Linked DNA regions of Homo sapiens: region 2 is linked to region 1. Evidence: fine-mapped expression QTL. A gene starts in region 1. The other region holds a variant in brackets. All regions are shown on one strand. Distances are from middle to middle. Region 1 holds the start of MARCHF8 (membrane associated ring-CH-type finger 8). Region 2 has its middle 67 kb from the start of MARCHF8.

Region 1 (5,382 bases):
GTGGGTAACCCAACCTTTGTACTCTTTCTATCGCCTTCTTAAAACTGGAAGGGTGAGTGAGATAGGGCAACAGTAGCCATCTCCATGTCATCTAGATTAGTTAGATTAGGGATAACACAAAGGAAAAATTAAAATTTTCTCTATCTATCTTAGTCCTTTTACTATTTCTATGGCTTTAATATACTCGAAAGTTCTGCAACCAGCACCATAGTCAATTTTAGAATATTTTCATTATCCTAAAAATAAATCATTGAATCCACTGCTTCCTCCCGTTTACCCATTCCTACCCCAGCTCTTGGCATGCACTGCTCTACTTTCTGTCTCTATAGATTTATCTCCTCTGGGCATTCCATACAACTGTCATCATGTAATATATGGTTCTTTGTGACTGGCTTCTTAGTATAATTTTTTTCTTTTCTTTTTTTTTTTTTTTGAGACAAGGTCTCACTGTATCACCTAGGCTGGAGTGCAGTGGCGCCATACCGGCTCACTGTAGCCTCAACCTTCTGGGCTCAAGCGATCCTCCCAACTCAGCCTCCTGAGTAGCTGGGACCACAGGCATGAGCCACCACACCCGGCTAAGTTTTGAGTTTTTTGTAGGGATGTGGTTTTGCCATGTTGCCCAGGCTGGTCTGGAACTCCTGGGCTCAAGCGATTCACCCACCTTGGCCCCCCAAAGTGCTGGTGTTATAGGCGCGAACCACCACACCTGGCCTACTTAGCATAACTTTTTAAAGGTTCGTCCATATTGTGGCATGTGTCAGTACTTTATTTCTTTTTATTGCTGAATATGATTCCGTTGAATGGATATAGCTTATTTGATTTATCCGTTTATCATTTGATGGACGTTTAGGTTATTTCCACCTTTTGGCTATCATGAGTAATGTGATAGAAACATTCATGGACAAGTTTTCATATGAGGAGATGTTTGCATTTCTCTTTGGTGTATATACCCTAGGATTGAAGTTGTTGGGTCATATGATAACATGTTTAACCTTTTGAGAAAGAGCCAGACTATTTTTCAAAACGACTGCATAGATCCTCACTAGCAGTATATGAGGGTTTCAGTGTCACAACATCCTTGCTAACACTTGTTTGTCTTTTATTATGAACATAATTAAAGTAATATCTAATAGTTTTGATTTGTATTTCCATGATGGCTAATGATGTTGATTAACCCATTTTTCATTGGGTTATTTGTCTTTATTATTATTATTATTATTATTATTATTATTATTATTATTATTATTTTGGTAGAGATGGGGCCTCGCTATGTTTCACACACTGGTTTTGAACTCCTGGCCTGAAGCAGTCCTCCCACCTCAGCCTCCGAAAATGCTGAGATGATAGGCGTGAGCTACTTGCACCTGGCCTTGCCCTTATGTTACTGAGTTGTAAGAGAGTTGTTTATATATTCTAGATACAAGTCCCTTATTACATATATGATTTGCAAACTTTTTCTTCTGTCAGTTGTCTTTAGACTTTTTTTTTTTTAACATTTATAAATAGAGGTAGAGTATTGCTATATTGCCCAGGCCTTTCTTGAGTTCTGGCCTCAAGAGATTCTCTTGCCTTGGCCTCCCAAAGTTCTGGGATTATAGGTGTGAACCATTATGACTGGCTGTGTTTTCCCTTTCTCAGTGGTGTCTTTTGAAGCACAAAAGTTTTTATTCTGATGATGTGTAGTTTGTCTGTTTTTCCTTTTGTGTGAGGAAGAGATCCAAATTTCTTTTGCATGTGGCTATCTAGTTGTCCCAGCACCATTTGTTGAAAACAGTACTCTTTCCCCAAGAAGTGATCTTGGCACCCTTCTTGAAAATCAGCTGACTATAGATACGTGGGTTTATTTCTGGGCCCTAAATTCTATTCCATTGATATATCTATTCATATTCCAGTATGACACAGTCTTGATTACTGTTCCTTTGTTGTAAGTTTTGCAATCTGGAAATGTGAGCTCTCCAACTTTGTTCTTTTTCAAGGTTGTTTTGGCAGATCTGAGTCCCTTGAATTTTATATAAATTTTCAGATCAGCTTGTCAAATTTCTGTAAAGAAGTCAGCTCAGTTTTTGATAGAGATTGCTTTGACTCTCTATGTCAACTTGGGAAGAATTGCCATTTTAACAATATTAAATCTTCTGATCCATGAACATGGACATCCATTTCCAATTTCTTCAACAACCAGCTTTGGCAGTATCTCTTCTAGATGTGAATGTTCATGTTAGGTGGGCTGTATTTTGCAAGTTAGCATTAGTCAAATTGAAGCCCTCATGCCTGGATTGTGAGGCATAGTGCTGAGGTTTAACTGTTATTCTGTGTAAAGATTAATTTAGTTGATATAAAAGATGTTTGGAAATTATGCAAAGAAAATAATGTAATATATGATTTGTATTTTTCATGTAAATCTTCACATAAAAAATGGCATGGCCTGTTTTATCGTTTGTTTGTAAACTCATTTTTATCCTAAATATGTGTGGCATAGGAGGGAGATTGTTTCAGGCAAACTTATAGGTCTGTTGCTTTGTTGTGGTGGTACATATCAAAAGACTAACTTCAATGACAGTGAGGAGGGATGTCCTTCAAAACTGTAAAAAATTTGAGACCCTCTTGCATCTGTGTTTCTGTGCCATAAATAGCCCTTCTCAGGCTTGTCATGGGCATGTACCAATGATGTAATAATGATGATTATATCAGAAGCACCACAGGTAGCTTTTGGCATGGTAGGTATAGGGCTGTGGATATCGTCAGTTTGACCAAGTATTCCAAGAGGCCCCATGGAGTTTGTCATCTGTAATAGAGGACGTTAGTGCATTAGTGATGAAAAAACTGCTTACCACTGACTATTGTGATCTCCCAGGGAGTATAAGGCAGCTCCGCAGTAAGTGCCTCTTGTTTTGTGTGACGTGCTTGAATACAAACATTCAGACTGTTTCTTGGGCACAGTAGTGCTCCATCTTATGCCAGCCTCATCAAAGGCTTGAAATAGAGTAGGTGGTGTGTGATACCTAGACACTAACATCCCCTATTCTATTTTCCTTTTTTTGTTGTTATTATCAATGGTCACTCACTTACTGTAAAACTAGACTTTATAAACAGATTATTATTTTAGCTAATTTTCTTCTATGTGTTGATCCCTCCCAGTTTTTGTTCCTTTTTGTTGTTCATTGATTCTAGAGTTGTGTGAAGGAAGCCATTTCGTGATTCCTGGTGCTCCTCTGCTTGCTTAGTGACACTACTAAGAATTGGCACCAGCCTTACAAACACCTGCCTTTGATCCAGAGTAGAGTTTGGGGAGAGGTAGAGTAAGTGACTGCTTATCAAATGTGACCTTGGGGTTGTCAGGCCCTGTTGTTTACCCTACCTTTTCCTACTGCCTCACCTGTCCCCACCCCCTACCCCAGCACATGGTTAATAAATGAAAATCTCCAAATTCGAGATTCATTCTTTTGGTTGAAGGCTTCCATTTTCTGTTAAAATTTGAACAACATGAAACATTTTACTACATTAAACCTTCTGGATAATTTACGTTTAATTGGTTTTGTATACAGAGTGGGATAGATCTCAGTGGGTAAGTGGGGAGAAAGAACAACACACAATTCAATTATTAGACATTTTGGGGGATGCGTAAGAGAAAACCAGAAACAGGGCAGGAGTACCTGGAATCACTGAAGACAGTTTATGCATACACTGTTATTTTACCTAAAGGCAGCCTTTCTCATGGTTCTTAGGCATGTCATGGTGACCCTTCATATTCCCTAGGAAACCCTTTACGGCAGTGTTTGGCAAACTATAGTCTGGTGGGCCAAATCTAGCCTGCTGCCTATTTTTGTAAATAAAGTTTTATTGGAACATAACTATGCTCATTCATGTACATACTCTTTTTTTTTTGGTGGGGGGGAGGTTGGGGGGTTGGAGTCTCGCTGTGTTACCCAGGCTGGAGTGCAGTGGTGCGATCTTGGCTCACTGCGAGCTCCGCCTCCTGGGTTTGTGCCATTCTCCTGCCTCAGCCTCCTGAGTAGCTGCGACTACAGGCGCCCGCCACCATGCCTGGCTAATTTTTTGTATTTTTAGTAGAGACAGGGTTTCACCGTGTTAGCCAGGGTGGTCTCGATCTCCTGACCTCGTGATTTGCCCGCCTTGGCCTCCCAAAGTGCTGGGATTACAGGCATGAGCCACCGCACCCGGCCCATTTACATGCTCTCTATGGGTGCTTTCATGCTACAGTGGCAGAGTTAATTAGCTGGAACACACTTGGACCACAGTGCCTAAAATATGTATCTTGCCCTTTATAGGAATAGTTTGCCAACAGCTCGTGTAGAGTCTCTACTTTTGGAAGGTTAAGTATGGATCATAGATACCTTGAGTTTAATTTGGACTTCCTAACCTCTGATCTCACCATTATGTGGACTCACAGACAGTGGTTTTAAGGAAAGATCACTGCTTATTTCAGGACAAATGCTTGGTCATGATAAAAAAAAAAGTTTAACTTCAAAAATATTCTTAAAATAAATGGTGGCACTGCTTTGTTTTAATCCTAAGTAGCCAATGGAAGATTATATCTCTGATTATACATGTACGTGATCCACCTGCCTCTTTCAGGTGCTCCCATCTTATTATGAGAAATGTTAGAATTTTCCCCTTAGACATTCATCTTCTATTGTTTTTGAAGACCAAACATTTATGTTGCCGTAACTTATTTAAATATACATATGAATATAAGTATAAAATGTTAAGCTCACTCTTGGAAATTTAAAGTGTTTTAGCTGAGTTATGTTTATTCTCTCTTCATTTTCTCTCAGCTTGAAATCCATGGCCCAAAATGACTCTACCAGTGGAGACTCTCTTCTGTGAAGAAGACGACCAGATAAGAGGTTGGGATGAGCATGCCACTGCATCAGATCTCTGCCATTCCATCCCAGGATGCCATCTCTGCTAGAGTCTACAGAAGTAAGACCAAAGAAAAGGAGAGGGAAGAACAGGTACTGGGAGAGTATCTTTTTTAGTTTCATTATTTTTATTAAATTTTTATTAAAGATGACCTAGAACAGTGCTTAAACTCTAAAGGTCAGGTTTTCTCTGATAATATACTGACAAGCACACAAATAGTTGTACTCAGAAGGAATTGTCTTTTTGTAGATTTCTAGGTTTTCAGATTTTGGTGTAAACTACTGTTTATAAATGGTTATAAATGACTTATCTTCATTGGTTAAATCTACCTGATTATTTTTGGTTAATCACTGTGACTAAGTTCTTTGGATTCTCAGAACATGATGCTGCTAGTTTCCTATTCATCGTAGTGTGAAATTTGGACACCAGATGGCTGGAATTTCTTAATATGTGTCTTAGTCTGCCCTAGCTGCTGTAACAAAATGCCATAGCCTGGGT
Region 2 (5,382 bases), 67 kb before region 1:
TCCACACAAAAGAATTCTGTAGATACTCCACTCCCAAGGAGGAGGAGGAGCAAACGCCTCAAGTCTTAGGTGTGGGCTATGCATAATGACTTTCTTCCAAGTAGTACAGTCTGGAAATGGAGAAAAGAGTAACTTTATAGTGGAGAGACCTGACAAACTCCTCAGCCAAGTAGTGAAGGTCAACATCAGCAGGCATAAATCATGTTGCTAGTGTGTTCACTTGATACCATGTGGTGAGAATGACACTTTAGTAGTCTTCCTCTCAAAACCCACAACCCCAGTGTAACCATGAGGAAAACATTAGACACTGTCCATTGAGGCTCATTCTACACAATACCTGACCAGTACTTCTCAACACTGTCAAGGTTATTGAAAAGAGGAAAGTATGAGAAACTGTCACAACCAAGAGTACGGGGACATACTGACAAATGTCATGTCGTACCCTGGATGGGGTCCTGAAACAGAAAAGGGAAGGCTGAGGGAATCTGAAGAAAGCATGGACTTTAAATAATGTCTCATTATTGGCTCATTAATTGTAACAAATATACCATAGTAACGTAAGATGTTCATAGGGGAGAGTGGGTGTGAGATGTATGGGAACTACCTTTGCAAATTTTCAGTAAATCTAAACTTGTTCTAAGAATAGTTTATTAAAAAAAACTTTTAAGAAAAGATACCTGCAGAAAGAAGTGGAATAGACTAGGTACCAAGTGCCTTGATACCCATTGTAGATAGAGTGAGTCTGCAGAGAAAAACAAGGTGGCTTTTAGATTTTTGTAGAGAATGGGACAAACAGTAGGGGTTTCATTTTCTCATTTATATAATTGCTTTATAAAAAGTTCACTTTGGAGGCAGGAAAATTCATATAAAATATAAAAGTCAGCATTGCCTTCTTAGAAATACTGTGTTGCAAAATACTGTCATTAAAATCTATAGCAATAATGGCTAAAAAAATCTTCACATGTAGATCAAAGAATTCTAGAATCAATTATACTACATTTTAAAGTAGTACCTATTAAGTTTTTGAGAGCACCATCAAAGCTGTCATTACCAGAAAATTTATAGTGCTATATTCTTTATTCCAGAAAGGATTGAATATAGAAATGTCCATGTTACCAAGAAAGAAAAACTATAATCTAAAACTTGAGAAAAGATGTCAGAAAACCAAAATAGAGGAGGAAATGGAAATTAGGAAAAAAGTGAATACTGGGAATTGTATAAAATTGCAGTTGTCCTGAAATATTTCAACCAAATTCACATCAACCTTACCTTAAGAAAGAAAAGCAAACTAGCAAAATTAGAAATGAAAATAAAGTTCAATGCAGAGGAGTCTAAAAATTTATTAGAGAAAGTTAGCAAAATGAGTAGAGCCACAGAAAGATTTTCTTTGAACTTTTTCATTAAAATGCAGTATTCAGTAATTTAATAGATATTAATTGAGCCTTTGGTAGGTGTCAGGCTCAATTAAGTACTGTGGATACAGTGTTGAACTAAACATCCTTGCTTTCATCACACATTTATATTCTAGAGGAAATAAAACAAATATGCCAGATGGTGTTAGGATTCTGCATTCATTTGTAGGGCTGCCATAACAAAGTATCACAGACTGAGCGGCTTCAGGGACAAATTAATTTTCTCACATTTTTGGTCAGAAACCAGCTCTTCTGACACCTCCTTGCCTTGCAGATGGCCATCTTCTCCTTGTGTGCTCTCACGGTCTTTCCTCTGTGTGTGTCTGTGTCCTAATCGCCTGTTCTTTTTTTTTTTTTTGAGATGGAGCCTCGCTCTGTCACCCAGACTGGAGTGCAGTGGTGCTATCTTGGCTCACTGCAACCTCCACCTCCCAGGTTCAAGCGATTCTCCTGCCTCAGCCTCCTGAGTAGCTGGGATTACAGGTGTGCACCACCACTCCTGGCTAATTTTTGTATTTTTGATAGAGATGGGGTTTCACCACATTGGTTAGGCTAGTCTCGAACTCCTGACCTCATCTGCCCACCTTGGCCTCTCAAAGTGCTGGAATTACAGGTGTAAGCCACCGCACCCGACCTAATCACCTCTTCTTATGAGGACATCTGTCATATTGGATTAGGGCCCACTCTAATCTCCTTTTTTAACCTCCTCTTTAAGGACCCTATCTCAAAATGCAGTCACATTCTGAGATCTGGGAGTTAGGACTTCAACATATGAATTTTGGGGGTGGAGGGACACAATTTAGACCATATCAGATAATACATTATGCTGTGGTAACAAATCAATCCCAAAAGCTCAGTGATTTAACACAACAAAGTTTATTTTTCCACCATGGAAAACTCACTGAGCCAGGCAACTTCCCAGAACAGCTGACCCAGGCAGTGACTCAGTGATTTAGGCTGTGTCCACTCTGTGGCTTCACCACTGCAACATGTGGTCTAGATCACTGCAGCAGGGGAAGACAGAGCTGGAGGGTTGCATTTGGTGCTTTTGCCTAGATGTGTATATGCCCCTTTTTGCTCACAGCCCATTGTTTATAGGGCCTGACCTAATTGCAAGGGTTATATGAAAGGAGCTGGTAGCAAATGGATATTTAATGTGCTATAAATCTCTGCCAGAGATGGCAATAAGTGCTAATAACAAAAACCAAGCAGGGGAAGGTGACATTGATAGGAGTGCTGTTTCACAAAGGATGGTCAAAGACAACCTCGAGAAAGTCACATTTAAATAAGCTATAAAGGAAGTGAGGAAACATGTCCGGAATTGGTGGGTTCTTGGTCTCACTGACTTCAGGAATGAAGCCGCGGACCCTCACGGTGAGTGTCACAGTTCTCAAAGGC[A/G]GCGTGTCCGGAGTTTGTTCCTTCTGATGTTCAGATGTGTTCGGAGTTTTTTCCTTCTGGTGGGGTTCCTGGTCTCGCTGGCTTAGGAGTGAAGCTGCGGACCTTCCTGGTGAGTGTTACAGCTCTTAAGGCCGCGCGTCTGCAGCTGTTCATTCCTCCCGGTGGGTTTGTGGTCTCGCTGGCTTCAGGAGTGAAGCTGCAGACCTTCATGGTGAGTGTTACAGCTCATAAAGGCAGTGTGGACCCAAAGAGTGAACAGCAGCAAGATTTACTGCAAAGAGCGAAATAACAAAGTTTCCACAGTGTGGAAGGTAACCCAAGGGGGTTGCCACTGCTGGCTCAGGCAACCTGCTTTTACTCTCTTATCTGGCCCCACCCACATCCTGCTGATTGGTAGAGCCAAGTGGTCTGTTTTGACAGGGCACTGATTGTTGCGTTTACAATCCCTGAGCTAGACACAAAAGTTCTCCACCTCCCCACCAGATTAGCTAGATACAGAGTGTCCATTGGTGCATTCACAAACCCTGAGCTAGACACAGGGTGCTGATTGGTGTGTTTACAAACCTTGAGCTAGATACAGAGTGCCGATTGGTGTATTTACAATCCCTGAGCTAGACATAAAGGTTCTCCACGTCCCCACCAGACTCAGAAGCCCAGCTGGCATCACCCAGTGGATCCCACACCAGGGCTGCAGGTGGAGCTGCCTGCCAGTCCCGCGCCGTGCGCCCGCACTGCTCAGCCCTTGGGTGGTCGATGGGACTGGGTGCCCTGGAGCAGGGGGCGGCGCTGGTCGGAGAGGCTCTGGCCGCACAGGAGCCCACGGAGGAGGGGGAGGCTCAGGCATGGCTGGCTGCAGGTCCAGAGCCCTGCCCTGCAGGGAGGCAGCTAAGGCCCGGCGAGAAATGGAGTGCAGCGCCGGTGGGCCGGCACTGCTGGGGGACCCAGCACACCCTCCGCAGCCGCTGGCCTGGGTGCTAAGCCCCTCATTGCCCGGGGCGGCAGGGCCGGCAGGCCGCTCCCAGTGCCGGTCCGCCAAGCCCACTCCCACCGGGAACTCCAGCTGGCCCGCAAGCGCCGCGCGCAGCCCCGGTTCCTGCTCACGCCTCCTCCACACCTCCCTGCAAGCTGAAGGTGCCGGCTCCGGCCTTGGCCAGCCCAGAAAGGGGGTCCCACAGTGCAGTGGTGGGCTGAAGGGCTCCTCAAGCGCCGCCAGAGTGGGCGCCAAGGTCGAGGAGGCGCCGAGAGCGAGCGAGGGCGCACGCTGTCACCTCTCAGAAATGGAAGGAAATGTTCTACTCTTGAGGAGACTAAGGAACAGCAAGGAAGTCAGGTGGCTAGAGCAAAGCAAGTGAGAGGACGATGGGAAATAGGGGCTAGATCATGCAGGACTTAGAGCCAAACACTTCTGGATTTTATTCTGAATTGGGAAAATACTGGGGTTGACATGGTTTTGAAAAGTCACTTTGGCGATTGTGTAGGAAAAAAAAGACTGTAAGGAGGCAAGGATGGAAGTTGAGAGAAATATACAGCAGTCATCCACGTGGGAGATCCTAGGGCTGGGCTGGGCTGTAGCAGCTCCTGGATGATAGTCACATGCTCTCCTTTCTCAAACCACCAGCACCTCTCTCCCTCTTGTCATGCTCAGCTTTTATTTTATTAAACTATCAACAATCGAAGAGAAATTCCACATGATACAGAAACATCGGGGATTCTGTCTAAGTCTTGGTGCTCACTGCTGAGGAAGAAGACTTTAATCAGGTGTTGCAGCCAAGGAGATGGGAGGTCAGTCTCAAATCCATCTCCCTGACTAAAATTTGGGGTTTATATAGCGGGGAAGAAGTGTAACAGTGTGTTAGAAAACACGAACTAGGGAGCGGTAAGGAAACAAAAGGAAGGGTCTGGCATCTCATTGTCTGAATGTGGTAATCTGGTAAGTTTCAATTATTTGATACTTTTTCAGAGGCCAGGGGTCCTTCCCGAGAAAGGAACTCAGATAAAACAAATGTAAGTTTCGAGCTTTAAGAAAAGAAGGGTCACTTTCTATGTTTGGCCAAAAGAACTGTCTATGGGACTATTGGGTCAGTTTCATGTTCAACAACGAATCTACCAAGCTATCTGTATCTGTGGCCTGCTATTCCCCTTCTCTTGTTTTTTCCTTATCTAAGGATGACTCCTCCAATCTACTCAAGATTTTCCTTCTTACAGTTGTCACTTTCTTGTACATCCAGTTATTACAGCATTTGTATTAGCATATAAATATTTAAACAGAAAACCTCAATCCTGCATCTCTTACCTACTATGATCCTATTTCCCTGCTCTCCTTTACAGCAAGAAAGCAATGATTGTATTTACTTGTCGTCACCATCTGTTATCTCAAGAATCAGGCTTTTAATCCTACCACTTTATCTTAATTGCTCTGTTCCCAAGGTCTCAGTGATCTCTACACTGACAGTTCAGAGGTCAATCCTCAACTGACTCAGCCTCTCAGTGCAAATGACACCTTTAGGCACTTGTCTCCTGAAACATTTCTTCACTTGATCAGGACTCCTCTGTTCCAGTTCTCCTCTTAACT

What was found. PIP is the estimated chance that this variant, and not a neighbour inherited with it, causes the effect. A credible set is the group of variants that fine-mapping cannot tell apart.
Region 2: its variant is the best candidate, but not a certain one, in a credible set for the expression of MARCHF8 in whole blood (INTERVAL, PIP 0.69).

What each region holds. Positions count from the first base shown.
Region 1 is chr10:45,532,704-45,538,085 of GRCh38, reverse strand. MARCHF8 (membrane associated ring-CH-type finger 8) reads left to right here and starts at 2,715. Exons shown (of 8, transcript NM_001282866.2): 1 at 2,715-2,875; 2 at 4,797-4,976. The coding sequence starts at 4,875.
Region 2 is chr10:45,599,280-45,604,661 of GRCh38, reverse strand. No RefSeq gene overlaps it. Among named protein-coding and RNA genes, the nearest start is that of MARCHF8, 67 kb to the right of the region's middle. The variant A/G (reference allele first, on the strand shown) is at 2,811.